Homo sapiens: one gene and its partners. The protein of the gene in region 7 interacts with the protein of the main gene of each other region in a pairwise test. Each region holds a gene or a part of one and is shown on either strand. Other genes may lie near its edges. The genes, in order: FAM156B, SCAF8, LRCH2, SEPTIN1, TBC1D22B, CXCL14 and TEX11.

The links.
Region 1: the proteins of TEX11 (region 7) and FAM156B interact in binary tests that used the Homo sapiens proteins (3 or more experiments, as listed by UniProt).
Region 2: the proteins of TEX11 (region 7) and SCAF8 interact in binary tests that used the Homo sapiens proteins (3 or more experiments, as listed by UniProt).
Region 3: the proteins of TEX11 (region 7) and LRCH2 interact in binary tests that used the Homo sapiens proteins (3 or more experiments, as listed by UniProt).
Region 4: the proteins of TEX11 (region 7) and SEPTIN1 interact in binary tests that used the Homo sapiens proteins (3 or more experiments, as listed by UniProt).
Region 5: the proteins of TEX11 (region 7) and TBC1D22B interact in binary tests that used the Homo sapiens proteins (3 or more experiments, as listed by UniProt).
Region 6: the proteins of TEX11 (region 7) and CXCL14 interact in binary tests that used the Homo sapiens proteins (3 or more experiments, as listed by UniProt).

What each region holds. Positions count from the first base shown.
Region 1 is NC_000023.11:52,896,182-52,900,129, reverse strand, and holds the start of FAM156B (protein FAM156A/FAM156B), read right to left. Parts: upstream 2,801-3,948; 5' UTR 589-2,800; intron 1-588.
Region 2 is NC_000006.12:154,809,916-154,813,415, reverse strand, and holds part of SCAF8 (SR-related and CTD-associated factor 8), read right to left. Parts: intron 3,402-3,500; coding exon 3,208-3,401; intron 1-3,207. UniProt on the Homo sapiens protein: Anti-terminator protein required to prevent early mRNA termination during transcription. Together with SCAF4, acts by suppressing the use of early, alternative poly(A) sites, thereby preventing the accumulation of non-functional truncated proteins.
Region 3 is NC_000023.11:115,231,297-115,235,341, reverse strand, and holds the start of LRCH2 (leucine-rich repeat and calponin homology domain-containing protein 2), read left to right. Parts: upstream 1-1,245; 5' UTR 1,246-1,300; coding exon 1,301-1,649; intron 1,650-4,045. UniProt on the Homo sapiens protein: May play a role in the organization of the cytoskeleton.
Region 4 is NC_000016.10:30,379,762-30,384,003, forward strand, and holds the start of SEPTIN1 (septin-1), read right to left. Parts: upstream 2,801-4,242; 5' UTR 2,782-2,800; coding exon 2,764-2,781; intron 2,605-2,763; coding exon 2,514-2,604; intron 2,419-2,513; coding exon 2,332-2,418; intron 2,123-2,331; coding exon 1,999-2,122; intron 1,713-1,998; coding exon 1,578-1,712; intron 1,484-1,577; coding exon 1,366-1,483; intron 273-1,365; coding exon 171-272; intron 1-170. UniProt on the Homo sapiens protein: Filament-forming cytoskeletal GTPase. May play a role in cytokinesis.
Region 5 is NC_000006.12:37,278,272-37,281,771, forward strand, and holds part of TBC1D22B (TBC1 domain family member 22B), read left to right. Parts: intron 1-1,032; coding exon 1,033-1,340; intron 1,341-3,500. UniProt on the Homo sapiens protein: May act as a GTPase-activating protein for Rab family protein(s).
Region 6 is NC_000005.10:135,576,192-135,580,313, forward strand, and holds the start of CXCL14 (C-X-C motif chemokine 14 precursor), read right to left. Parts: upstream 2,801-4,122; 5' UTR 2,588-2,800; coding exon 2,524-2,587; intron 2,349-2,523; coding exon 2,243-2,348; intron 1-2,242. UniProt on the Homo sapiens protein: Potent chemoattractant for neutrophils, and weaker for dendritic cells. Not chemotactic for T-cells, B-cells, monocytes, natural killer cells or granulocytes. Does not inhibit proliferation of myeloid progenitors in colony formation assays.
Region 7 is NC_000023.11:70,898,712-70,902,211, forward strand, and holds part of TEX11 (testis-expressed protein 11), read right to left. Parts: intron 1-3,500. UniProt on the Homo sapiens protein: Regulator of crossing-over during meiosis. Involved in initiation and/or maintenance of chromosome synapsis and formation of crossovers.

The DNA of each region.
Region 1 (3,948 bases), about 18 Mb from region 7:
CCTTGTGATCTGCCCACGTCGGCTTCCCAAAGTGCTGAGATTACAGGCGTGAGCCACCACGCCCGGCCACATGGACTTTTTTCTAGAAGTGGCAAAATCCTACAGCAAAATGTCTAAGGTCTGTGCAAGTTCTCTGGGTGCTGAAAACCGTGCTCCTAGTCTTGTGCCATGTCATGGCAAAGGAATCTAACTCCTAGCCACGCAACGCCACACAGATTGAGGAAAGAGTCTGTCCTACACATGACTTGCAGATGTTCTACATTTTTGATGCCTACACAGATCATCTCTATCCTACTGGGTCTGGAGCGGAAGAGATACAATTTTTAGCAGCTTTGTAACAAAAGAACAGGTAGTCAGTAAAGCCAGCAATGCCCACTTTCAAGAAAGAAAGAAGAAAATGAAGACAGCAGTGAAGCGTGGTGCTGGCATCAGGGGTCTCCCAGCAGGTGAGTACACAGAAAAGCAGCGGGAGTACAACCGGGAGTCCGGGGAGGGAACAGGGGAGGGACCAAGAAGAGTGGCCAGAGCAGCAAGAGGAAGACAAGGAGCAAGTCCGCTCTGGCGAGAATGGAGCTTGCCTAGACTCACCCAAGGCAGTCAGGTCGCTGGGTTCACAAGGTCGATGCTGTGGGTGTAGGCCGAGTGACTGCTACACCTTTCACCTACAAAAGAAAATAACCTCACTGGCCAGGTCACATTCCTCCAGGTATTTACTGAGGGCCCACTCCATTCAGCGGTGCCTTCGGTGAATTATCCAATGCAGCCCCATCCCAAGGACGTGTCTTAATCTGAGGAATAAAATATTGTCCAAGGAGCCAGGAATGGTGGCTCACGCCTCTAATCCAAGCACTTTGGGAGGCTGAGGTGGGAGGACTGCTTCAGCCCAGGAGTTTGAGGCCAGCCTGAGCAACAGGGCGAGACCACCATCTCAACAAAAAACTTAAAAAATTAGCCAGGCATGATGCTGCACAGCTATGGTCCCAGCTACTGGGGAGGCTGAGGTGGGACGATCACTTGAACTCAGGAGGTTGAGGCCAGTGCAGTCCAACCTGGGTGACAGGGTGAGTCCATCTGAAATCACAAAACAAAACAAAAAGACAACTATGGCAGGCATGAGACGGGGGTACTTCTGACACAGAGGAAGTCAAAATCACCATAGCCCAGGTGGTCAGGAACAGCTTCTCCCAGGGCATGCTATGATATATATTCTCATCCCCAGTTGCAGATGAGGTAACAGGATCAGAGAGGTTAAGCAACTCACTCAAGGTCACACATCTAGGGAGTGGTGGTGACCATTTCTCACTGAGGTCTGCTGAAATACAAAAGTCACTCCACCATTTGTGACACCAATCTCTCTTTATATTGTCACCCGTTTTAATTCGCATTCATAGACGTATACTTACCTGTGGCTCTCCTTAGTTTCATATTCTCATAAGCGGCTACACACGGTATAGATTTCGTCTTAGCACATCAGGCCTTTCCCTTAAAGAACCTGAATTTCCCGTGCCCGGCACGACTGCCCAGCCCAGAACTGAACACTTATCTCAAATTAATCTTCCAACCACACACCAAGGAAAGAAAATGGATTACTGCCACGTAGAGATTTAATTTGGGTATTTCACGAATTCTGAACTACGATTTGAAATGTAACCACTGTCCAACCAGAAACAGTAAAAACAAAGTGCTTCCCTATGAAAAGTATTCACAGGACATTTTATTAAATGCCAAAGCATTCCAGGTAAGACACACTGCCCGTTTTATAGGAAGTTGTTGAGATTCTGCTCCTAAGAATACAGTAGTCCTTTCTCTCTCCACTGCTAGTGCCCTGATAAGCTCAGCCAACCAAGGCCATTCGCTTTTCCATTTGCAAGCAAACACACCAAACTACCCTCACACCCACGCACAAATCCAACGCACCCAACGGGTCAGTGAGTAGAGGGAAATGGTATTGGAGATGCAGATGGGAATCTGTGGCTACTCAGAGCACCACATTTCTGATGGCGGAGAGGGCTACCGCCCAGGGTCGCCTGTACTCCAGCAAGGTGGACGGCGGAGAGGCCCTCCCTCTCTAAACATGAGACCCTGCAGCTTGTGCGGCTACTGGACACAAATGGCCTGGACCATTCATTGCGCACGAATGCAGCAATCACACCGCCCATTAAACGCATGTCTAGTCGTATTTCACATTACGACCGTCCCTCTGTCACACGTCGGAGAAAGGGTTTGTCGGACGGTTTGTTTCAATAGGGGCAATGCAGTCCTCCTTGAAAACCCTCCAGTCACTGTCTCCTGCTGTGCGATGGGAGAGGAGGTGGGGAGGGAGGTGATGCCAAGGACACGGTGATTTCTGAACCCGCTGAACACTGATCCTAGCCCAAGTGTAGTCCCGCCGGCTACCAATGCCCGCGGCATCCTCTTTCTCCGCTGAAAAAGGCCACCCCCAAGTAGGGAACGAGAACAACGCCACCCCCAGAGTGCACGACCGCCATTCCCACACCGGGGAGATATGGACGACGTGGAAAATCACCCGCTTCCTTCGAAAGCCCCACTCCCGGCCAGCCCAACCCAGGGATTCGAGTCCCAAGACACCCTGGCCTGTGCTAGGGACAGCCTCCGTCTCGGCCTCTCGCTCTGTCTCTCTGGAAGTCTCTCTCCCACCCCCCCGCTCTCAGTCTCTCCCGCGCGCTCGCTCGCTCTCCGTCTCTCTCGGGCTCTCTCACGCGCGTTCTCGCTCCGGAGCCGGTTCCCGCCGTCCAAGCGCCAACGCGGCGCCTCGTTTCCTCTGCCCTGGAAACGCAGCGCCGCCCGCTCGTAATTGAAGGGTTAAGACCATCGAGAGGAGCCGCCCTCCGGCGGGCTAGAGGCGCCGCAGCGCGGAAGGGGGCGCCGGCGAGGATGTGCTCACGTCACAGGGATGCGACGCCGCTGAGAAACTGAACCTTTGATTGGCTGCCGCGGACCGCCGGAGCCGGAAGACGGAGCGGTTGGGTGGCTTCTCGCGACCCACGCCGCTCGGGTGGACTGCGAGGGGAGAAGGCGTGGAGGTCATCCCTTCCGGAGGTGCGCCGCGGCGTTCCCGGAGCGGCTTCTCTGAAGCGTGGCTTGTGGACTGCCGAATGCTTCCGGAGGCCATGGGAAGACACTCCCTGTAGCGGACGTGACTTCCCGGGCGAGGGACGTGGGAACTGGGCTGGAGGGTTGGGAGGCGGCCGACTTCTCCTGTGATTGGCTGGAGTTTTGAGCTAGGGCGCGCCGCTGAGAACCGACACGTGCTGTTTCATTTTTTTTTTTTTTTTTTTTTTTTTTTTTACTGTTTTTGCATGAATGATAAATGCACCTTGGTAAAGACAGAAACCAAACAATCCAATACATTGAAATTATTCAGGCTACTGCCTTAGGGAGAGCGCCCCAGAAGTGGAAATCACACTGTTGGGGTAACCGGGGCGGGGCGGGGGTGTCTTTTACTTTCATAGGAAGGAGTACACCGGTTTCAGTGGGGAGATTTATGGGGCAGGGTTTTTTGTTTTTTTTTTAATCAGCGGAAGTCTCAGCCAGCTGAACAGGGAATGTTTCTCTCTGTGCCTAGCTACTTTTAGGAGGACAGACTTCCCGTCTAAGTGAATCATTTGTGATACCCTACCTTGTTTTAACCTGAGTGACTCTTTCCTAGCAGAGAGAGCCGGACAGACTCCATTTTAGTTTCTTCACTTGCAGCCCCCTTTATCCCCCTTAAGGGAATAACTAGTGCAAGCTGAGTCCAAGCACATCCAAGAATACACCTGCTGGTAAGATATTGAGGCAGGCTGTACCAACAGCTCGGGAATGTGCTCGGTGGAAGGTACCTAAAAGCCCCTGCATTTATCTCTTAATCATAGTTTAAGCCCCTGCACCTGGAACTGTTTATTTTTTGTAACTGCTTCTATAACCAATTAATTTTTTTTAACTTTT
Region 2 (3,500 bases), on a different chromosome or scaffold from region 7:
ACAAAAGCTGAAACTATAGGCACACCATCACCATGCTTGGCTAAGTTTTTATTTTTAGTACAGACATGGTTTTGCTCTTCCCAGGCTGGTCTCAAATTCCTGGCCTCAAGCAATCCTCCCGCCTTGGCCTTCCAAAGTACTGGGATTATAGGTTTGAGCCAGTATACTCAGCCTTAAGGATTCTTCTGTTTTTTGTTTTGTTTTGTTTTGATATAGGGTCTTGCTCTGTTCCTCAGGTTGGAGTGCAGTGGCACAATCATATCCCACTGCAGCTTCTCAACCTCCTAGGCACAAGTGATTCTCCCACCTCTTTCTTGAGTAGCTGGGACTACAGAAGTGTGAACCACCTTGCCGAACTAATTTTTTTTTTTTTTTTGGCGGTAGTGATGGCATCTCACTTTGTTGCTCAGGCTGGTCTTAAACTCCTGGCCTCAAACAATCTGCTGGCCTGTGCCTCCCAAAGTAGCTTGGATTACAGGTGTGAGCCGCTGCACCTGGCATTCTCTTTTTCCTCTTTATTACTGGTTCTGCATATTCCAGCTGCCTTAATCTCCCTGAACTCTGTTCTGTATTTCCCATCTCTTTCAATATTATCTCTCTACACATTTTTCCCATAGGAAACTCCATTATTTTCCCCAGAAAGCATTAATGATTCTTGTCATCCCATGCAGAAGGGACACTTGATTCCTGGAATGTTATTATTCACTGGTGCTTTATATCCCCTAGACTATTCACGAAAACCTTATGTTCTAAAATCCATGCTAAAGACCAATAAATCGTATGAAAACACTACCATATGTTTAAAATGTGTTAAGAAAGAATACAAACCACAGGAAATTGATACTGCTTTTGAATAAGGAGAGTTGTGAGGTAAACAATCAGAGATTATTTTTCACTGTATAGGCATACCTTGGAGCTACTGCAACTTTGGTTCCAGACCACCACAATAAAGCAGATATCACAGTAAGGTTAAGGCACATAAGTTGTTCTTCCCAGTGCACACAAAAGATATGTTTACACTACACTGTAACCTATTAAGTGTGCAACAGCATTATGTCTAAAAACAAAAATGTACATACCCTAATTTTAAAATACTTTTTGCAAAAAAAAAAAAAAAAAAAAAGCTGACATAGAGACAAAGTAGGCACCTGCTATTGGAAAAATAGTGCCAAGAGAGGTACTCAACATAGGGTGGTCACAACCCTTCAACCTATTTAAAAAAAAAAAAAAAAAAAAAAAGGCAGTATCTTCAAAGCACAATGGAGTGAAGTGCAATAAAACAAGGTATGCCTGTATTTGGTTATGCGTTTTTTATTCACGTGCTTTTTATTTTCTTTTTTGCTGTTTGTTGTGCCCATGAAAATAAAACAGAAATAAAAAATAAATTCCACAGTTAAAAACTATGTAAACAGCACACGTATTTACTGCGGCACTACTCACAGTAGCAAAGATTTGGAACCAATCCAAATGTCCATCAATGATAGACTGGATTAAGAAAATGTGGCACATATACACTATGGAATACTATGCAGCCATAAAAAAGGATGAGTTCATGTCCTTTGCAGGGACATGAATGAAGCTGGAAACTACCATTCTCAGCAAACTATCACAAGGACAGAAAACCAAACACTACATGTTCTCACTCATAGGTGAGAATTGAACAATGAGAACACTTGGACACAGGGCGGGGAGCATCACACACTGGGGTCTGTCAGGGGGATGGGGGGTTGGGGGAAGGGTAGCATTAGGAGAAATACCTAATGTAAACGACAAGTTGATGTGTGCAGCAAACCAACATAGTACATGTATACCTATGTAACAGACCTGCACTTTGTACACAAGTACCCTAGAACTTAAAGTATAATTTAAAAAAAAGAAAAAACTTAGATGACGGGTTGATGGGTGCAGCAAACCACCATGGCACCTGTGTACCTATGTAACAAACCTGCACGTTCAGCACATGTATCCCAGAACTTAAAGGAAAATGAAATAGAAAATTAAATGGTTAAAAAAAAAAAAACTGTGTAAACAGTGAAATCAACAACATGACAAATTAAGTGAGAAATTAAATGAGAGCGACTCCATATAAAATCCTTACTCTAATAATGGCAAATAAATAGATAATTCTGAACGTCTTAATGGTAATCATGCGAGAAAGCACAGTAGAGATTTTTGTGGTTAAACGTTTGACATTATTTCTTTTATCAGCCAGCACTAAAATGTTTAGATGTATACCATCACCCTAAGGGACAAACAAACTTCTAGAGCAAGGATAATCAATATTATCAGGTTGACACTAGCTCTCACAACCAGGTAAAATTCATGCAAGATAGCCAAGGCCTACAAGAACTCCCAAAACTTAGTAAGAAGATGGCTATTGCCTTTTATTATAGGCCTGGGTTTCCAAGACGCTCTAGTAGCACAAATTATACCAATTATTTTTCTAACTCCCTGGCAGAGGGAATTTACGTGGAAGTCTTCAGAAATTAGATAACACAATCAATGTTTAGCTCTTTGGAAAGAATGACAATTTGTTCGATTTTATGTACTTCTTTGCCCATATGTAAACTCTTAGTTCATCTTAAAAGTCATAACCCACCAAGAATACCCTAGGCAAAATTTGGCACTAATTAAAACTTATTTTGCTGTGCTTAACATTCCTACCAAGTGAACCCTCCCCACACCTGCTCCAAAACCAAACCCCACCACTACCGAATCTGTTCTAATCATACGTAATTGACTAACATGTAACCGTGCAAGGTTTGTACAGTAGGAATTATCCTGTAGTGCTAACCCATTAACATTATAATTACTTTAAAAATTAGATATAGCTAAGTATATGCTTCCTTTAATAATTATTCCTACAGACCTGGTGGCCATAATTGCTAAGAATACTATAGACAGAAGTCACTGTGTCCATGCTACAGATACCAGCCTAGTCTGCTTTTTCAGTCAATATGTATTTTCTAACTTGCATTTGAAAAACAAACAAAAAATCAACCCTCAATGACCTTGGTATTTGAATGGAATCTGTTCTTCCTTCTTCTTCTCTTCTCTATCATGTTACAAAAACCAGAGACATTACTCATTTACCAAACCACTTTTAACCTTAATCTGAAAATAAAATTTGGCTGAGAGACTTTGTAGCAGATAACTATTTTTTAAATATTAATTGAAACCAAAGCGTTGCAGATATATGTTACTTACCACTTAGTGTTTTAGATCTAATTGGAGGTAATCCCTTTTTCTGTCGTTCTTTCTCCCTTTCTCTGGCTCTCCTTTCACTTGAATACGACCGTGATGATTTCCTCTTTCTTTCTCTTGAGCGGGAGCGTGATCGCTTTCTGTGTTTACGCTTTCTAGAGCCAGACCGTGACCTAGACCTTCGTTTTCTTGGTGATCTACAAAAAATTTTCATTTTACTTCTAATGACAATGTTTTCTTTCTACCAAATCTGTCACTTCTAAGTGAGGGAAAAAACAATAACAAAAAAGTTGTCT
Region 3 (4,045 bases), about 44 Mb from region 7:
CACAAATCAATTTAGACAAGTTGTAATTCTTTCCTGTAATCTTTTATAAAGTAGAGCCTATGGCAGATATACTTTTTTGAAGTGGAGATTTCTCTTAAAAAATGAGGCTGTTGACACATTGCTCAAATTGAAATAGGTGTAAAAGAGATACATAGGATACTCAATGATAAGTGAATATGTCCAAGCATTCTGATAGTTTTCTTCATCAACTTTACTGAATACTAGAGAAAAAGATTTGAATGACTATGATTGAGAGTGGAGAGGGTAGTGGGTAAAGGGATGGCAGTGGCCTAAATGGTTGGGTGATAAACTCGGCTAGATAGTCTGGGGTTAAATTATGGAGGCCTGGAATGCCAGATAAAGGACTTTGAACTTTCTTCTCTATGTCTTCTACATTAAAAATATCTTCAGGTTCTGAGAATGAACTCCTAAAATTCAAGATCGATTGGCTTCATAATACCCAGGGTTAAATCTTCAGAATTCCATCTAAAAACAAAACCTGTATTTCAGAAATAACTTAAGATTGTTTGATGATCAAAGAGATTTTCATCAGGCAGTACTGACACGATGAGAAGAAACTAGAGGTATTTTGGAGATCTTGGCACAACTTCAAAGAGTGATAGAACAGAATGTGGATAACTCTTCCAAGTTTTGGAAGGCAACAGTCTGGCTGAGACTTACATACATTGAAACGAGAGGCTTCCTTGAAAACATTTTACAAATCTTTTCCTATTATAGAATTCTAAACTATGGAGAAATTCATATATGCCCCAAACTCAACACTGCACTCATTTCCCTCCCCAAGTGACTCCCCAGCGTTTCTCTAACACTGGTAAAGGATTCCTGAGGCATTTGCAGTAAGCTTCTCAATAAGCTGCCCCATAGCCCTTCTAAGTGCTGTTTCTGTATATTCTGAAACGAATCCCTTTCATCCCTAGCTCATATATTTGTTTCTGTTTTGCAGAACGGAAACAGTGAAGCAACTTAGAGAGTTGGGGACATACAGCCCAGATGACCTATAGTTCGCCTGGTGTCGTTTCGCAAGACTTTGGTACCCAAAGCAGCAGAACCGGGATTTAGCATCCTTCTTATCATACATTTCTTAAAGCAAGCGTTCTGCACTTTCAAACATCATCTTTTCTCTATCCAACACCTCCTCCCAGCCCGCCCCCTGGTTCCTTCCCACTCTCTACCTCGCCCCCCACCCCCCGCCCCCAGTCTGCGCATGCGTCCTAAGAACCCCTTACACTCGCGGCACAGGCTGACAGTATTGTCGGGGGCTATTCTCTCTCCCAGGAACATGGCGGCGAGTCAGGGAGGAGGCGGTAACAGTGGGGGCGGCGGTTGTGGTGGAGGTGGAAGTAGCGGTGGCTGTGGCACGGCTGGAGGGGGAGGTGGCGGGGCTGGAGGGGGAGGCGGCGGCGGCGGCGGGACCCTGGTGGTCCCCATCCCGGTACCGACTCTTTTCGGTCAGCCGTTCCCCAACGGGCCGCCGTGGAACCCGGGGAGCCTGCAGCCTCAGCACACCGTGAGGAGCCTGGACCGGGCCCTGGAAGAGGCGGGCAGCTCCGGCATCCTGAGCCTCAGTGGTCGGAAACTCCGAGACTTCCCGGGCAGCGGCTACGACCTGACGGACACCACCCAAGCAGGTGACAGGACGGGGGGAGGGGAAGCTGGCTGTGAAGGAGGAGGTGCGGGGAGTGGGTGGCTGCGTGGCTGCGTTGTTGGACTCTGCGGGTCTGGGCGGGTGCGCGGGGACCGCCAGACTAACAAAGTCGGGGCAGCCCGTTCTCCTGAACGTGAGGGGCGAATCAAGCAATAGGGGAGGGGAGGAATGCTGCCTGAAGGATGTATAGAAACTGGTAGGATGTTAGGGGTGAAAGAGCATCATTGTTAAAGCAAGTTTCCCCAGTTTGGGTGGGAGGGAGTCATTGACACCTTCCTTAATGCACTTCTTTCAACTCTCCTGGATCTTCCCGTCTTTCCCGGAAAACCAAACCCAACCAAACTAAACGAAACACAAAAATCATAATCTCTACATATTCCTTAAAGGCATACGTGCCTGAAAGAATGGCATATCCTTTTTCAGAGTACAGCAGCAGGATTGCCATGGTTTTTCTGTGTGGTTTAATCATCCTACGATATTCTTGGCTTCTTTCTTGTCACGTATGCCTTTAAAGACTGAGATTTTTCATTTTCCTGGTGTTGAGAAGGTAGTGGTGGTTAAATTAGTATTTGCTGCAGTGGTAAATTAAATCATCAATCACTTACATGTCTGCTTACTAGAAGAAAGCTAATCCTTGTTTTGAGTTATCTTAGAGTCTTAATTTTTATAGTAGAAAGCCAACAATTTTAAGGGTATTTTTGAGAAAAAATTATCTCCATTCTTTATGGAGTTGTGGATTAAAGGTTTATCACTTTGGGTGAGAAATTGGCTATTGTAATGTTCTTCATATACTCTCTGGTAGTCTTTGTTGTGGCTGGCATTTTTTGTTAGGGACACACTCTCTTATAAACCAATGCTGGATTATTTTAGATATGTCTTGATTTGATGAAAGGTTTTTTTTTACTTTTTATAATCTTTAAATTTGTTATTTATTTCTGTTTTCATCTGCTTTGCTGAAATAAATCTGGACAAAATTATTTTAATAGATGTCGTCATTTTGAAACAATATAGTAAGTAAATTCACCCATAATGAGGAGTAGTAAAATACCACTTATTTTCAAAACAAGACAATTTCAGATGTATTCAGTTTTTAGATCTTAAATCAAGGTATTTGTGTTGGAACAAAGTGGGGAGAGGAGGAAAACCTAAAATTGAAGCTTTCCACCCAGTGATTCTTTTAGCAATGATCCTAAGAACTATGAATGTGTAATCGACCACTGATTTTATATTTTGTAAAGCATGTTGGAGTATTTACTCCTTCACTCAGAACAGATTTCCTAAATAATATGTTCACATATTCATGACTGTTAGCAAGATATTATGCAACTTGGTGTGTTCTTCAAAGGCTTCAAGTAAAACAGTTTCAGACTGCATCATTATAGTGATTTTTTTCTTTTCTTCTTCTTCCTCTTTTTTTTTTTTTTCTTATTGTTCTTTCTAACCTATAAAGGATCCTTCTACCTGCAGGACAAAGTTTAAGCATCCTAGCTTGGCATTCAGGACTTTCATTGTTGGGCTCCACTTTATTGTTGCAACCTTATTCCCCAAAATGCTCCCACATAGAATCCTCTCTTCCAACTAGGTCAACTCTCTGTCTCTCAAATACATTTTGTGCATTTCTGCCTCATCTTTGTACAAGATCATCTGTATGCTTGGGATTTCCCTCTTTTCTCCGTCTATTTAATTTTATTGAAGCCCCAGCTCTTCCAAGAAATTGTCTCCAACTCCCTTAGTCCACAAGAATCTCCTGTTTCTTTGAATTCCCATGGTACTTATTGTCTTTACCACTTACTTGGCAGTGCTGGTTTTATTTTCTTTTTATGTTTCTGTCTTGCTATCCCTGAGAAGAAATAGAGCCCCTTAAAAGGCAGGGTGTAAGCCATATACTTGTTCAGTCTTCTTATTATATATCCCCTTTATTGTATTTGATAATATTTCTCATAAATATGAATATCATCTGATGCAGTTACAGCCTTTGGCTTTTAAGCCTTCAGTTGGTTTTCTGAGGCAAGCTTCAACACAAAGCAGAACCATATCTGTTCATGGTAAACATTCATTCATCATAAGTTTCATTTTACTTTTTCTCTTCAGTTGAATGAGCATTTCTTGTGGGAACATTTCAAAAATCAGAGTAAACAAGATCTTGTGCTGCTCTTTTTTTTCATTTAAATTAGATATCTTTGGGTGACTCATTTGCCATTTGTTTTTGATAAAATTTAGCCACGAAATTTTTAGGGGCAGTATTTTTTAATGTAGAGAGACCACTATTCATTATGTGTAAATGACGGCAGGTACATTGGAACTGAAGAAAAATAGAGTGTGTTTGAGATTATACATACATATGTACATACATACACACACATACATACAGGAACACAC
Region 4 (4,242 bases), on a different chromosome or scaffold from region 7:
ACACCTGGCAAATTTGTGTATTTTTAGTAGAGGTGGGGTCTCGCCATGTTGCCCAGGCTGGTCTGGAACTCCTGACCTCAGGGGATCCTCCCGTCTCAGCCTCCCAAAGTGCTGGGATTACAGACGTGAGCCACCGTGCCCGGCCTGCCTTCCTTCTTTGTTTCCCACACCTTCATCTCTGCATCCTGCCTCTTGAAGTCTTCATCTTCATCAGAGTCACATTCGGGGAACTGGTAGATGTGGATCTCCTCTTCCTTCAACTGATCCCGGATCTCAGGGGAAACAGATATAGAGACAGTGTGAAACGGGCCACAATGACAGACATTTCATGACCAGAGACAGTGAGACACAGAGATACTGGGTGGTCAGAGACAGAGAGAAAGACATGAAAGACAGAGATGGGGAGAGATGGACATACAGGAAGACAAAAACAAAATCTCAGAGACATAGATGGTGAGAAACACAAGATTCTAAGATGGGGCAGACATTAAGAGACCAGGAGAAGCCTGGGCAATATAGCTAGATCCCATCTCTACAACAAATATACACATATATTTTGAAACAAGGTTTCACTCTATCACCCAGGCTGGAGTCCAGTGGCTCCATCTTGGTTCACTGCAGCCTCAACCTCTCAGGCTCAGGTGATCCTCCCATCTCAGCCTCCTGAGTAACTGGGACTACAAGTGCACACCACCACACCTGGCTGGTTTTTGTACTTTTTGTAGAGATGGGGTTTTACCATGTTGCCGTGGCTTGTCTTAAACTCTTCAGCTCAAGCAGTCCACTGACCTCAGCCTCCCAAAGTGCTGGGATTAACAGGTGTCTGCCACCAAGCCCAGCCAAAAAAATATTTTTTAAGTTAGCCAGGCATGGTGGTGTTCATCTATAGTCCCTGCTACTCAAGAGGCTGAGGCAGGAGGATCACTTGCGCCTACAAGTTCGAGGCTGCAGTGAGCTCTGATCTTGCCACTGTACTGCAGCCTGGGCCACAGAGTGAGACTCTATCTAAAAAAAAAAAGAGAGAGAAAGAGAGGCCGAGAGAGATATAAGCAGAAACAGTGGGAAAGGGCTCTGAAGACACGGGGTGGGGGCCAGAGGGAAGTCACTATGTTCTCATGTCTATGCTCCTGCCCTCAAATAGGCCTCAGCCAGGCATCTAGCCCGGGGGCTGCATATGTAGCCTATTTTGAGCCTTCAGAGACATGGCTATGCTGGCGGCTTACCACCCGCCTTCCTCAGAAGCTTCTCCTACAATCTAGCCTGATGCACCATGCTCCAGAAAGGCCACTTCAAGATCAAAGAAGTCTAAGCTGAAATCAGGTTTGGCTTCACATGGGGTCAAAGGTCAGAGGTCATCACTCACACCTTCTGCTTGAGGGCCTGGGTTTCCTGGGGCATCAGAGCATCCGCTTTGCCAATGACTGGGATGATGTTGACTTTCTCGTGTACTGCCCGGAGGAAGGCCACATCTAGGGGCCGGAGCCTGCACCCAGGGATTGGTCATTGCCCAGCCTCAGGGGGCAGAGACCCCCCAGCCCTCCCTAAATGCGCCAGCCCCCAGGATCCCCCCACCAGACCCCCGGCCGAAGGGTGAGATGAAGTAGAGGCAGCAGTGGACTCGGGAGTCCTGGATGTTCTTCCGGTTCAGGCCACTCTCATCCCTAAGGTACTGCTCAAATTGCTCCTCGATGAATTTCACCACCGGAAGCCAGCTGGGTGTGGGGAGAGGATGTGAGGTCAGAGATCAAAGGCCAGAGGGCAGGGGGCAAGGCTAGCCAGGACTGTGGGAGTAGAATGTCATTTCTTTGGCTCCCTCCAAAGACATTAAGGGGAACTGGTGGGGGCCTAGGTGAGTCATCAAGAAGCACAGGGACCCAGTGGCCCTCTGAAACAGACACCACCTTTTGAGATAGGGAGCCAGCACAAACCAGTCCTGTAACTCTCCAGGGAGTCGCCACTGTGAAAGGCTGAGCCTCTGTCCCCTTTCCTCTTCCTCACCAGTCAGAGCAGTCCACTGAGTCCCCAAAGCCAGGTGTGTCCACAAGGGTCAGCTTCACTTTCACACCCCCTTCCTCAATCTCTACGCCCCGGCGCTCAATGGCCAGGGTCTGTGTCAAGCGAGCTGTGGGATGGGGGAGAGGTCAGGGATCCGGGGAGGCTCTGAGGCAGAATTAATTTCCTTTGTCAATATCACAGTTGCCTGCACCCATTTCCCAGGGGAGGAAAGTCTCAGAAAAAAAGCAGTCAACTACCTGAGTCCCCAGATGGAAAAGACTAGGGTGTAACCTGGGGACAGGGGCTACTGCCTCAAGAGGGTGGGGAGGGTCTTACCACTGGCCTCTGGCACCTGGCGATCCTCATAGAGGTTGGTGAGGAAGAGGCTGTTGATGAGGGTGGATTTCCCTAGGCCTGACTCCCCTGTGGACAGAACAGGCCCAACTGGTCAGGGGAGGGGACAGCCAGGGCCTCCTAAGGACATCCCCTCCGCAGTTCCCTCTCCAAAACCCCCAGACCTGCCACCATTAGCGTGAAGTCAAACCCCTTCTTGACAGACTTGCGGTGCAGCTGGTTGGGGAGGGCAGCAAAACCCACGTACTCCTTGTCCTATGGATGGGGGTGGACAATATGAGGCTGCTGGCAATGGCAGGCAGGGTCCCCAGGATCACTTGAGTTCCTGGGCTAGGAAGAGTCAGTGGGGTCTGGGGACCCCAGGCATGGGGGCTGGGGGCCGAGATGCCCAGGTTTCTGGGTGTAAGGACTCACCATGACTCCGCCAGCCATCACTGCACCTGCCGTCTCTCCCCACTTCCTCTGGTGGGGCAGGAAGCTGAGTGCGGCTAACAAGGGGGCGGGCAGAAGAGGCAGCTGAGATGCTCAAACTGGCCCAGTCCCAGAGAGGTGGGGAAGGCCAAGGCCAAGAACACTTGGGGTTGCCACCTCCTGGACCCCTTTGCCCATCACCTGTCTACGTACCTTCAACCCTCCATCCTTCACACATCTGGATTCCAAGTCCCACTGTAGCTCCATCATCGTGGTGAGACATGGGGTATGTGCAGAGAGGAAGGAAGTGGCTCCCTTTGTTAGCAGGGGAGATGAAGGTTTTGATGAGCTGATTAGAAAACAGTTCCCAGGACGGGCAAGGTGGCTCTCGCCTGTAATCTCAGCACTTTGGGAGGCGGAGGAGGGAGGACAGCTTGAGCCAAGGAGTTCCAGACCAGCCTGGGCAACAGAGGGACGTGCCCCTCTACCATCTCTACAAAACATTAAAAAATTAGCCAGGCATGTTGGTACAATCCTGTAGTCCCAGCTACTGGGGAGGCTGAGGTGGGAGGATTGCATGAGCCCAGAAGATCAAGACTGCAGTGAGCTGTGATCACACCACTACACTCCAGCCTGAGCAACACAGCAAAACCCTGTTTCTTTTTCTTTCTTTCTTTCTTTTTTTGAGACGGAGTCTCGCTCTGTTGCCCAGGCTGGAGTGTAGTGGCGCCATCTCGGCTCACTGCAAGCTCCACCTCCCGGGTTCCCGCCATTCTCCTGCCTCAGCCTCCCGAGTAGCTGGGACTACAGGCACCTGCTACCGCGCCTGGCTAATTTTTTTGTGTTTTTAGTAGAGACGAGATTTCACCGTGTTAGCCAGGATGGTTTCGATCTCCTGACCTCGTGATCTGCCCGCCTCGGCCTCCCAAACTGCTGGGATTACGGGCGTGAGCCACCATGCCAGGCCAACGCTGTTTCAAAAAAAGAAAAAGAAAAAAGTGGACCAGAAGCCATGATGGGATTGGGAGTGGGTGAAGCCATACATTTTCCAGCTCAGACAATGGATTCATAAAAGGACTCCAGGTCTTTGGACACCACTGCCCGAGAGATTTTCCTTCAGAATCCTGGCCAAAGAACTCCACTGCTCAAAATCCTTCAGGAACTCCCCAGTAACTCAGAGTCAAGTCTGAATTCTGGCCTGACTGCCAAAGCCTCCCTCAGCTGGCCTCATCACCCCATCTCTCACTCTTCCAAACGTCCTTGGCTCTCTACCCACATTGAGCTTTTCCTTTTTCTGAATCAGTTAAACTCTTCCTCATCCTTCAAGTGTTTCTTTCCAAGGGCTCTGCCTCTATGCAATCTCTCCACCTACCCTAGGCAGGGTCATTGTCCCTCCTTCAGATTCCCAGCACCTGGCTGGCGTGGTGGCTCACACCTGTAATCCCAGCACTTTGGGAGGCCGAGGCGGGTGGATCACTTGAG
Region 5 (3,500 bases), on a different chromosome or scaffold from region 7:
ACAGAGTAGCACCAAACTTCAACTTTCTTCTCAAGGCCAGCAGAAGAACTTTTAACAGAATAAAAAATGGAACAACTTTTTTATTTTGGGACTTAATGTTTAATGCTACATATGTGGACTACCTAAAATTATCTTGTTTTCTGCCAGTAGTTTATGTGCTGCTCTAAGTGATAGCAGATCAACTGTCAAATCTCTGTGGATTAACATAGTAAAGGTTTATTTCCTGCTCATGCTACATGTCTAAAATGGGGGTGGGGTAAGGGCAGAGGGCAGGCTCCTCGACATAGTTACTGCTGCTCCACATAGCCACTCAGTTACCTAGGCTGAAGGAGGTTCTACCATCTTGCCAGTGCATCATGATAGAAGAAAAGCTATGGATCAGGCATGGTGGCTCACACCTGTAACCCCAACGATTTGGGAGGCCGAGGTGGGAGGATCACTTGAACCCAGGAGTTCAAGACCAGCCTGGGCAACATAGTGAAACCTTGTGTCTACAAAAAATAATAATAAAATTAGCCAGGCATCGTGGTGTACACCTGTAGTCCCAGCTACTCAAGAGGCTGTGGTGGGAGGATCACTTGAGCCCAGGAGGTCAAGGCTGCAGAGAGCCATGATCATACCACTGCACTCCAGCCTAGGTGACAGAAACTCTGTCTCAAAAAAAAAAAAGAGAGAGGTTATACAGAACTGACACCTATTCTCTACTTTGCCTGGAAGTAATCGCCTCATTTCTCCTCAGTCCATTGGCCGGTATTGGTCATATGGCCTCACCTAAGTGTATGGGGGCCAGGAAGTATACAAGAGCACATGGGATATTTGGTGACCATTGCTGTCTCTGCTACATCTGTCTCTGCGATCTCAGGCTGGTCTGGATGTATCTAGATGAAGAATGGATGTGGGCAATTTTTGTTTGAAGAAGCTAATGATTATGTATGTGGTAGTTTGTAATTTATTAATATTACAATAATAAGCAAATGTAGGTGGTCAGATGTGTCAGGCCATTCCTTGGTAATCGTGTCTCCTTTCTTGAAGTTTCATTAAAGAACGATCAAAAGTCAACACAGTTCCTCTGAAGAATAAGAAGGCCTCCAGTTTTCATGAGTTTGCACGGAATACCAGTGATGCTTGGGACATTGGCGATGATGAGGAAGAGGACTTTTCCTCACCTTCTTTCCAAACTCTGAACTCAAAAGTTGCTTTGGCAACTGCAGCCCAAGTTCTAGAAAACCACAGCAAGCTGAGAGTAAAACCAGAACGGTCCCAGTCAACGACATCGGACGTCCCTGCCAACTACAAGGTCATAAAGTCCAGCAGTGATGCCCAGCTGTCCAGAAACTCTAGTAAGTCCTTCCTGCTCCCTTCATAGCCTCAGCCTTCTCAGCAGCGTGCATTTTAAATAAAAGCGATTTTTCTTTGGGGCCTCACTCAGGTAGATATTCAACTGGGCGGTAAATAAACTCAAGCCTGAGATGTGACATCATTAAGCCTGAGTGGTCACAAGCTATACTTGCCCCTCCCACAGTGGTGGCTGCCCAGTCTGGTGACCTGGGCCTTCACTCTCTGACACCCAGGTGTTGTTTGCCATTCTCCTCTTCTCTTCTTCCTTTCCCTGTGGTGGAGTCCACAACTTCTCTGGTTTGATTGCTTCACATTGCTTTAGGCCTGGTCAGGTTTAGAAATAGTAACTGATGTATTTAAAGCTGTTAGTGGCTGAATTTCACAATTGTTTGGCACTGTGGTTTGACTTTCTCAGCCCTAGGGAACAGCCACTAGCATAAGGTTGTCTTTTCCTGTTCCTGAGGGAGGGAGCAAATGTGCCTAAAGGCCCCAGGTCCCAGCTTCCTGACCATCAGGCAGGTCCCATCAGGTTGGGTGGGGTAGAAGTAGAGGCCTCTCTGTTTCTTTTCGGGAAACTGGCCACAGTAATGGTTGATGTGTTGGTGGTTTTATTAGCTTTTGGGGACTCTCAGTGTATTCCTTTAAATATTCATGGTTATGTTTAATGTTGCCCTAATGGGTTTTATAAAGTATGTTGGGAGCTGGAGAGGGAAGCTTTGTCATCGCAGTGAGAGTTAAAGCAGTGAGCTGGTACAGGATGAAAAGGAAGTAGAAGAACATCAGAGCCCTGGAGTGTACCCTGGCTCATGTTCTGAGGGAACTTTTTCGTGGCTGTAAGGTCTTTGCAATCATTGCACAGTTATTTTCCATCACTGATTTGGGCTCTAGCATGAACCTTCAGTGCCATGCACAGATAGGCATTCAGTGTTACTGGACCAGGTGGCCACAGCTGCAGGCCGTGGAAGGTGTCTACACACTGTGATGGAGGGTCTCCAGAGGTTTCCAGTGTGAGGAAGGCCCCTACCGTGATCCATGATGAGCTGCCCTGTGCAGCCAGGACCTCCCCCGCCCAGCCCAGAGCATTCTCCCTGAGGAGGTTTTCTCCTGCCGGCATCTGTCTGTAAATAGGTAATATGAGATTTACCTCTGTCTCAGCTTTGCAGTGTGTGTCTGCATTTTCTAGTCCCCTTGTTACACTAGGCGTCCCAGCCAACTGCCTCATGGAAGTTGTTTTTGTAAACCTTCTAGTAGTGCTGGTTGGTTGATAGTCACTGCATCTGTCTGTAAATAGGTAATATGAAATTTACCTCTGTCTCAGCTTTGCAGTGTGTGTCTGCATTTTCTAGTCCCCTCGTTACACTAGGCATCCCAGCCAACTGCCTCGTGGAAGTTGTTTTTGTAAACCTTCTAGTAGTGCTGGTTGGTTGATAGTCACTGTTTAATTTTTGTTGTGACTACTACTTTTTAAGGCCCAGCCGTGTAAAGAATATGAAACAGTCATGTAAGCACAGCTAGAATTAAAAACTGAGTTTTGCTTGTGGTAATACAAGAGTTTTAGAGTCAGGCTTACCTAAGGTGGTTTTTCACTTCTCACTTGCAAGTTATTTAACCTCCCTGAGCTGCAGTTTCTTGTCTGTAAAATAGTTATACATTCCTACCATATGTTCTAAGGATCAAATGAGAGATCATATGTAAAAGTGACCTATATGCCTTATACATATGAAGCACTCAATATACGTGAGTCCTCTACTGCTTATTCCCCCTACCCACTATCTAGTGTAGAAATGTCAAGAACAAGACAGAGTTCAGTTTGAGTCTTTGTTTGTTATTTCAGTCATATCTTGGCAGAATTAAGAACTGGTTGATTTTGGTGGGAAATGTAGGAGCACAAAGGAACCGCAGCCACCAAAGGCAGGATTGCCTTAGGCCAGAGCTTCTCACCATTGTGCAGGGCACACTGGTGGGCCAAGAACCGGGTACAGGATGTGCGGGGATATTGATCCTTTTAGTCCTTGGAGCAGCTGGGGGTTCTGGGGCTTGTGGAGAGCAACCACCTCCATTTATTGCAGCCTTGTGCTTTGTGGTGTCATCTGCAGTGTCATCATTCCTTATGTGCTCTGTGGTGTGGAATGGGAAGGAAAACACTGCCTTAGACTAAACTA
Region 6 (4,122 bases), on a different chromosome or scaffold from region 7:
CTCCTCTGTGACTCCGGGTCATTCCTCTAGCCTTGAGCACAGGCCAGGCTTCAGAGTGAACTCTGGTTGTCTCTCTCCCCCACTGTGCCCAGTCACCCTGCAGGAATTTAGCAAATGCTTTTCTCTTTCTGCCTACAAGGCTGCTTTAGCATTCTGAAGGAAAGGACGTGGTAATGCCTGATAAAAACCCTTTCTCAGTTAGGTCAGTGTGCAGGCTGTGCATCCCAAATCCTGAAGGTCAGGGAGAGCAGGAAGGGAGAGCAGGAAGGGTCACTCAGCCCTCTCACTACAGTGCTCAAATGCCACGTCATAATACTGGGATTATGAAAATCGGTTGTGGAGTGCAGACATAGGGATTTGTGACTCCAGCAACTATCAGAAATTCTGAGTCCTGTGACCCTCTCCTCCACAGTTCTGGCGGTGGGGGTAAGGGTTTTGGTGAGAGCTCCATGGACCTATGACACAAATTGCTCTTTCTAGAATTCGGACTCTCCTGGATCCTTCTGGGTGCAAGGACTCCCACTTGCAAAGCGGACCTCTCCCCCCGCCCCTACTCCTGCCCCCACCCCCAGCCTCAGCAGAGATTTCTGGGTGACTCAGGGTAAGCTGGAAAATTTGCTTTTGTTCAGCCTTTGTGGCTGAAAACCTGCTTTGCAAAAGTGCTGGCCCCTCATCTGATTTGGAGAGTTTTAGGATTGTGGAGGGGGAGAGGAGCCCCCAGCCCTCAGGGATGGAGTGGGAGGCCCTAGGGGGTGGGTTAGAGGTTTAGTAGAGGGTGATTGGATTGTGTGCTGATCTCCTGAGGCCCCTGCACGTTTCTACAAGGCTCCGTAAAGCCTTTCTCACACTTGCCTAGCTATAGTTTTTCTCTATATGTGGAAAAGTTTAGCCAGGAAAAGAGCAAGCCTATTTACTGAGGGCTCTGTCCTTTTTAGGTATCACTGCATCCTTTACCCTGCTTTCTTCCCCTGCAAGGTCTCAGAAACTTGTTTGGTTAATAGAGTGGTTTTCAGCTCTTAGACGAGTGAGATTTAACTTGGAATTCCCCTGTCATTCTTAGCCCCCAAACTGGAAGCCCTGAGGAGCTTGGAGCTCCTTTCCCAGCTCATTTGACACTTGGCCCCCACCCAAAAGGATTTTTGGGTATTTTCTTTGAATTTGGTCTGCAAGGCAAGGGGTAGGGACAAGCAAGTTAATTTAGGTGTCTGTGAAGGAAGGCAGTGGGGTCAGCTCAGTTCCAGTGGATTTCTGAATTCCCCTAATTTCAGCCTGACAGTGTAGCCCCTAGACGGGGATGGGGGGTGCTGGGTAGGGGTGTGCACTGCTTTCGCAGACACTGTGAAGGCCTTTGCGCCGGTGGGGGCCAGCTGGTGGAGGGCACTTGCCCAGACTGAGAATAAAGTGCGTCCTGTTTCTGGGGGAGGGGAAGAGGGGCCAATGGTCTGTGGCAAATATTTGGTAGCCGCTTTGCCAAGGGCTCCCTTCCTGGCCAAGAGCATATTGATGAGGAGGCAGCGGTGCTGGCCTCAAGTGGTTAATTGGGAAGGCGGAGGAGCAAGAAACTAAGTGTTCTCTCACTCTGCCCCAGTTTTTCCAACATTCCCCACATCCCCACCAAGCAGGGCTCCAGCCATGTGGCACATTAACCCCAGCAGAGCACTTTCTGCAGTACTGCTCCGTATTGGGGACCCACAAGGAGTACAGTCGGTGAGGGAAGCTCGTGGAGCGTTCTCAAAATAAAATCTCTAGGAGCCAAAAACTTGCGGTCCACTTGTCTCTGACTGGAACAAGGCTCTGAAGGAGACTCAGGATTTAAGATAGTGTTTGCATTAGTCCTCTATCCAGTGACAGGAAGGCAGCACGCCTCACAGTTTGGGTGTGAGTGTGTTTTAAGTGATTTCAGTCTAGGTTTTCTGAGTTGGCACAAGGGAACCCTTTAACCCTTGATGGCCCTAGCAGAGTGGGTGGCCCATGGTACAAATAGGGAGACTGCTCATTTGAATCCTAGCAAGGGTGAACTTGGAGGCGCTGTTCCGGAGCGGGACAGTGACCCCCCTTCCCGACTGTCTTCCAGAGTGTCTCGCCAGCGTCCTAAGGACTCTCTGGGCAATTACAAAGGCTTTTCCAGGGCCTTGACAAAGTCGGAGAGAAATGTTTGTTAGCCCGACCCAGGCCCAGGCTGTGCCCTGGCATTGGGTTGACAGCAGTGCGCACCCCCTCAAGGTGAGGAGCGAGAACTCACATAACCATCTTCTCCTCGCAGTGCGGGTACTTTGGCTTCATTTCCAGCTTCTTCACGTCGCTGTAGCGGATCTTGGGTCCCTTCCGGGAGCACTTGCATTTGGACCCTGCGAGCGAGCGCGGGGCAACGGCTTAGTTGCTAGGCGGTCTCCTGCCCCTCGACCACCTTGGTGCCCACCCAGACCACCCCCCGCGGGATCCCAGGATGCCTAGAAATTGGCGCTTGGGTTCCCCAGGACAGGACAAGACGAGACGGCGACAAGGGGAGCTCCCCGCACTCACCGTCCACACGCGCGGTGTACAGCGCCAGCAGCAGCAGGAGCAGCGCGGCCGCCAGGAGCCTCATGCTGACCGGAGGGGCGCGGCGTGGGAGCAGGGACATGGGGAGGGCGCTGGCCCGTCGGAGCGGCGGCCCGGAGACGCCACCCAGCTCTGCTCGGCTTTCTCTGCCCGGGGCGCGCCTTCCGGCTCTGCTGGCTCCGGCTGCGCCGTCGGTGGATGCCCAGGGCTGTCTGTGGCCGTGCGCTGCGCTCTGCGCTTGTCTCCGCGCTCTCTCCACAGCCTCCCTCCGCCCGCCCTGGCCTCTTTTAAATCCGCTCCTGCCCTCGCAGCGAGCGAGCTCATTAATATGCAGAACCACTCGGTGACTCACTGAGATTTCTCAATGTGGTGAGGGGAGGAGACCTTCCCAGCCCGCCCGTCGCCCGCCCCGGGAAAGGACCCGCTATCGCAGCGGCGCACACCCGGAGCCACGCGCGCACACGCACACACACATCCGCTACCCTCTCGCTCACACAACACGCCGCCTTCGCACACTTGCACACCCATACCACAGCGCGCACACATTTCCAGCGTCCCGCTCTGCCTTTGGGGAGCCCAGACGGTGGAGAGGCTGCTGAAGGGCACTGCTTTTCTGAATCGTGTGGTTCTCTCTCTGGCCCGGCAGGCCAGCTTTTCCGAGCCGGCGGGAGACCCAGGCCCAGGGCTCAGATCCTCAAAGACCTGAAAGGGTTTTGGAGCAGGTGCCAAGTGTGAGTGCCTGCAGGCCTGACCCCCAAGGGCCCCTGCTGGGCCAGAACACAAGGCCAGTTCTGGACAGGGGCTTGTCATAGACTGTCCAGCAGCAAAGTCATTGACTGTGATCACTGGAACTGACTCAAAGAGGGTATGTGTGTGTATGCGGGGGTGGGGACGGGTATTGGGGAGGAGTTTTGGTGACTCCCAAAGGAAAGCTCCTTAAAGTGGGTCAGTGGCCTGGTGGCTGTGTGAGTGTCTGGGTGGTGGGGAGAACCAGGAGGAGTCCTCACTCTCACACTACTCTCCAAAGCCAGGTAGAGAGCCCTAGTGGAGAGCGATGACAGTGGTAACCATCTGGATGAAGGCCTTCCCATGTTCTAGACATTGTGCCAGAATGCGAGGTATAGTGGTGTGAGCCCAGCCATAGTGGCAGAAATTCCCTCCTCACTACTTTCCAGCACAAGTGACTTTACCGCTCTCAGCTTTTGTTTCATCATCTGTAAAGTGCAGATCATCACAGTGTTTCTGATAGGGTGGCTGTGAGAACTATAGAAATCATACATGTTGTCAGTACCCAGGAAATGTTACTTATTGGCACCATCGTTTTATGTCTAATTTATCTATTACTTTGATTCTTACCAATTGGTACTTTTCTTCCAAGTTGGTACTTTTAATTTCTTTATTTGACAGGTGTGGAAACATGCTCTGAGAGAAGAAATAACTTGTCCAAGGTCACAGAGCTAGGAAGCAGGTGACTAGGCCAGGAGGGTCCTCAGTATATACGGCTGCAGAACTGGGACTCCTGTCCCTGGACCACTCTGTTGCTTTGAGGCCTGTCTGCCCTTCACTTCTTGCTGCCTTGAG
Region 7 (3,500 bases):
TCTCCTGCCTCAGCCTCCCGAGTAGCTGGGACTACAGGTGCCCGCCAGCACACTCAGCTAATTTTTTGTATTTTTAGTAGAGACGGGGTTTCACAGTGTTAGCCAGGATGGTCTCGATCTCCTGACCTCATGATCCACCAGCCTCGGCCTCCCAAAGTGCTGGGATTACAGGCGTGAGCCACGGCACCCGGCCATAAACTGTACTATTCCCCCTAATAGGTGCATACCAGGTGGCATCAGTGATTATCTCACTGATTATCTGTAAGATTTCTGTACAGGCTGTAAAATAAGTATGCTCATGATTCTAAACTATGTGGCCCTGTCTTGGGATATTTCCTAATAACTCTGTCATTCTTAATCTGAGGATCCCATTGTTGTATTTAAAGGAAAAGATAGTTCAGGGAAGATTACAAATAAAGTCCTTTGAGATTCAATGAAAGCCAATTATCTTGACTGAGTTTTACTACTAAACTTTTTAGTCTAGATCTGCACTCTCTAATATGGTAGCAATATATGGCTACTGAGCACTTAAAATGTGGCTAGTTCAAATTGGGATGTGCTTTAATTGTAAAATACACATGGGTTTCAAAGACTTAGTTTAAAATAAGAAAGTAAAATATCTCAGCAATTTTGTATACTGATTATATGCTGGAACAAAAATGTATGAATATGCTGGGCTATAGCATTAAAATTATTATTATATTAAAAATTAATTTCACCTATTTATTTTTACTTTTTAAACGTGATTACTAGAAAATTTTAAGTTACATTTCTAACTCACATTATATTTCTACTGGACAGGGCTGGTATTGAGTATACATTGGAACTATATTCTGAAGACTTGATGAAACAAATTAGCTAATGTCTACCTCCCTAACAATCATCATAAATATAATAGAAAAAGAAAATATAGAGGCTGGGCACCGTGGCTCACACCTGTAATCCCAGCACCTCCTGTAATCTGGAGGCCGAGGCAAGCAGATCACTTGAGCTCAGGAGTTCAAGACCAGCCTGGGCAACATGGCAAAATCCAGTCTTTACAAAACATACAAATATTAGCCAGGCGTGGTGGTGCATACCTATACGTTCATGCCACTGCACTCCAGCCTGGGTGACAAAGAGAGGTCCTGTATTAAAAAAAAAAAAAAAAAAAAAAAAAGGACCAGGTGTGGTGGCTCATGCCTGTAATCTCAGCATTTTGGGAGGCTGAGGCAGGCAGCTCACCTGAGGTCAGGAGTTTCACCATGTTGGCCAGAACAGCCTGGCCAACATGGTGAAACCCGGTCTCTACTAAAAATATTTTTTTAAAAATAGCCAGGAGTGGTGGTGCACGCCTGTAATCCCAGCTACTTGGGAGGCTGAGGCACGAGAATCACTTAAACTTGGGAGGCAGAGGTTGCAATGAGCCGAGATGGTGCAACTGCACTCCAGCCTGGGCAACAGAGTGAGGCTCTGTCTCAAAACAAACAAAAAATTAATTAATTAATTAGTTAAAATAAAAATACAAAAATTAGCCAAGTGTGATGGTGGGTGCCTGTAATCCCAGCTACTTGGGAGGCTGAGGCAGGAGAATCGCTTGAACCCGGGAGGCGGAGGTTGCAGGGTCACAGTGAACAGAGATCGTGCCACTGCGCTCCAGCCTGGGCTACAGAGGGAGACTCTATCTCAAAAAAAAAAAAAAAAAAAGAAGAAGAAGAAGAAAATTGAAAATTTTCTTGAAACAAATGATAATGGAAACACAGCATACCAAAACGTATGGGATACAGAGTGAAGTTTATCACTATGAGTGCCTACATCAAAAAAGAGGAAAAACTCCGAACAACCTAATGATGCATCTTAAACAACTAGAAAAGCAAAAGCAAACCAAACCCAAAGTTAGTTGAAGAAAAGAAATAATAAAGACCAGAATAGAAATAAACGAAATTAAAATGAAAATATATATATATAAAAGATCAGTGAAGCCCAGTAGTGGTGACTCATGCCTATAATCCCAGCAGTTTGGGAGGCTGAGGTGGGTGGATCACTTGAGGCCAGGAGTTCGAGAGCAGCCTGGCCATCACAGCAAAACCCTGTCTCTACTAAAAATACAGAAATTAGCCTGGCATGCCTGCAGTCATAGCTACTCAGGAGGCTGAAGCACAAGAATTGCTTGCGCCTGGGAGGTGGAGGTTGCAGTGAGCTGAGATTATGCCACTGCACTCCAGCCTGGGCAATGGAGTGAGACTCTGCCTCAAAAAAAGAAAGAAAGAAAAATCTAGAAAAAAGGCCAGTAGGCAGGCAGATCGCTTGAGCTCAGGAGCTCAGGAGACCAGCCTGGGAAACATGGTGAAACCCTGTCTCTACCAAAAATACAAAAATTAGTCAGGAATGGTGGCGCATGCCTATATTCCCTCAGGAAACTGAGGCGGGAGGATCGCTTGAACCTAGGAGGATAGCGCCACTGCACTACAGCCTGGCAATAGAGTGAGACCTTGTCTAAATAAATAAATAAATACTTAAAAAAGACTGAGGGATTTGGGGGGCAAAAAGTTCAAAATGAATAACTAGCGTGGTATGAAAGAAAGAAAAAGCAAATTCAGTCTTAGCTATATTATTATCTAAAGAGAAAAATCATCAGTCCTAAATCTAAAGAGAAAGATTACAGGCGTGCATCACTTAAGGACAGGGATACATTCCAGAAATGTGTAATTTGGTGATTTTTGTCATTGTCCCAACATCATAGAGCAGTGGTCCTCAACCTTCTTGGCACCAGGGACCAGTTTTGTAGAAGACAATTTTTCCACGGATGGTGGGGGGATGGTTTCGGGATGAAACTGTTCTACCTCAGATCAACAGGCATTAGTTAGATTTTCATAAGGAGCATGCAACCTAGATCCCTCGTGTGGGCAGTTCAGGCTCCTGTGAGAATCTAATGCCACTGGCCACTGATCTGACAGGAGGCGGAGCTCAGGCGGTAATGCTTGCTGGCCCAGGGCTCATCTCCTGCTGTGCAGCCAGGTTCCTAACAGGCCAGAGACAGGTAATGGTCCGTGGCCCAGGGGTTGAGGACCCCGTCATAGAGTGTACTTACACAAGATGGTATAGCCTACTACACATCTAGGCTATATGGTATAGCCTATTGCTTCTAGGCTACAAACCTATAACTCATGTTACTGTAGTGAATACTGCAGGCAACTGTAACACAATGATAAGTATTTGTGTATTTAAACATATCTAAACCTAGAAAAGGTAAGTAAAAATATAAAAGATTAAAAATGACTGGGTACGGTGGCTCACAGCTGTAATCCTAGCACTTCGGGACACCGAGGAAGGAGGATCGCTTGAGCCCAGGAGTTCGAAACCAACCTGGGCAACATAGGGAGATCCCGTCTCCACAGAAAAATTAAAAATTATCTGGGCATGGTGGTGCATGCCTGTGATTCCCGGCTACTCAAGATGTTGAGGTGGGAGGATTACTTGGGCCCAGGAGGTAGAAGCTGTGGTGAGCCACGATCACACCA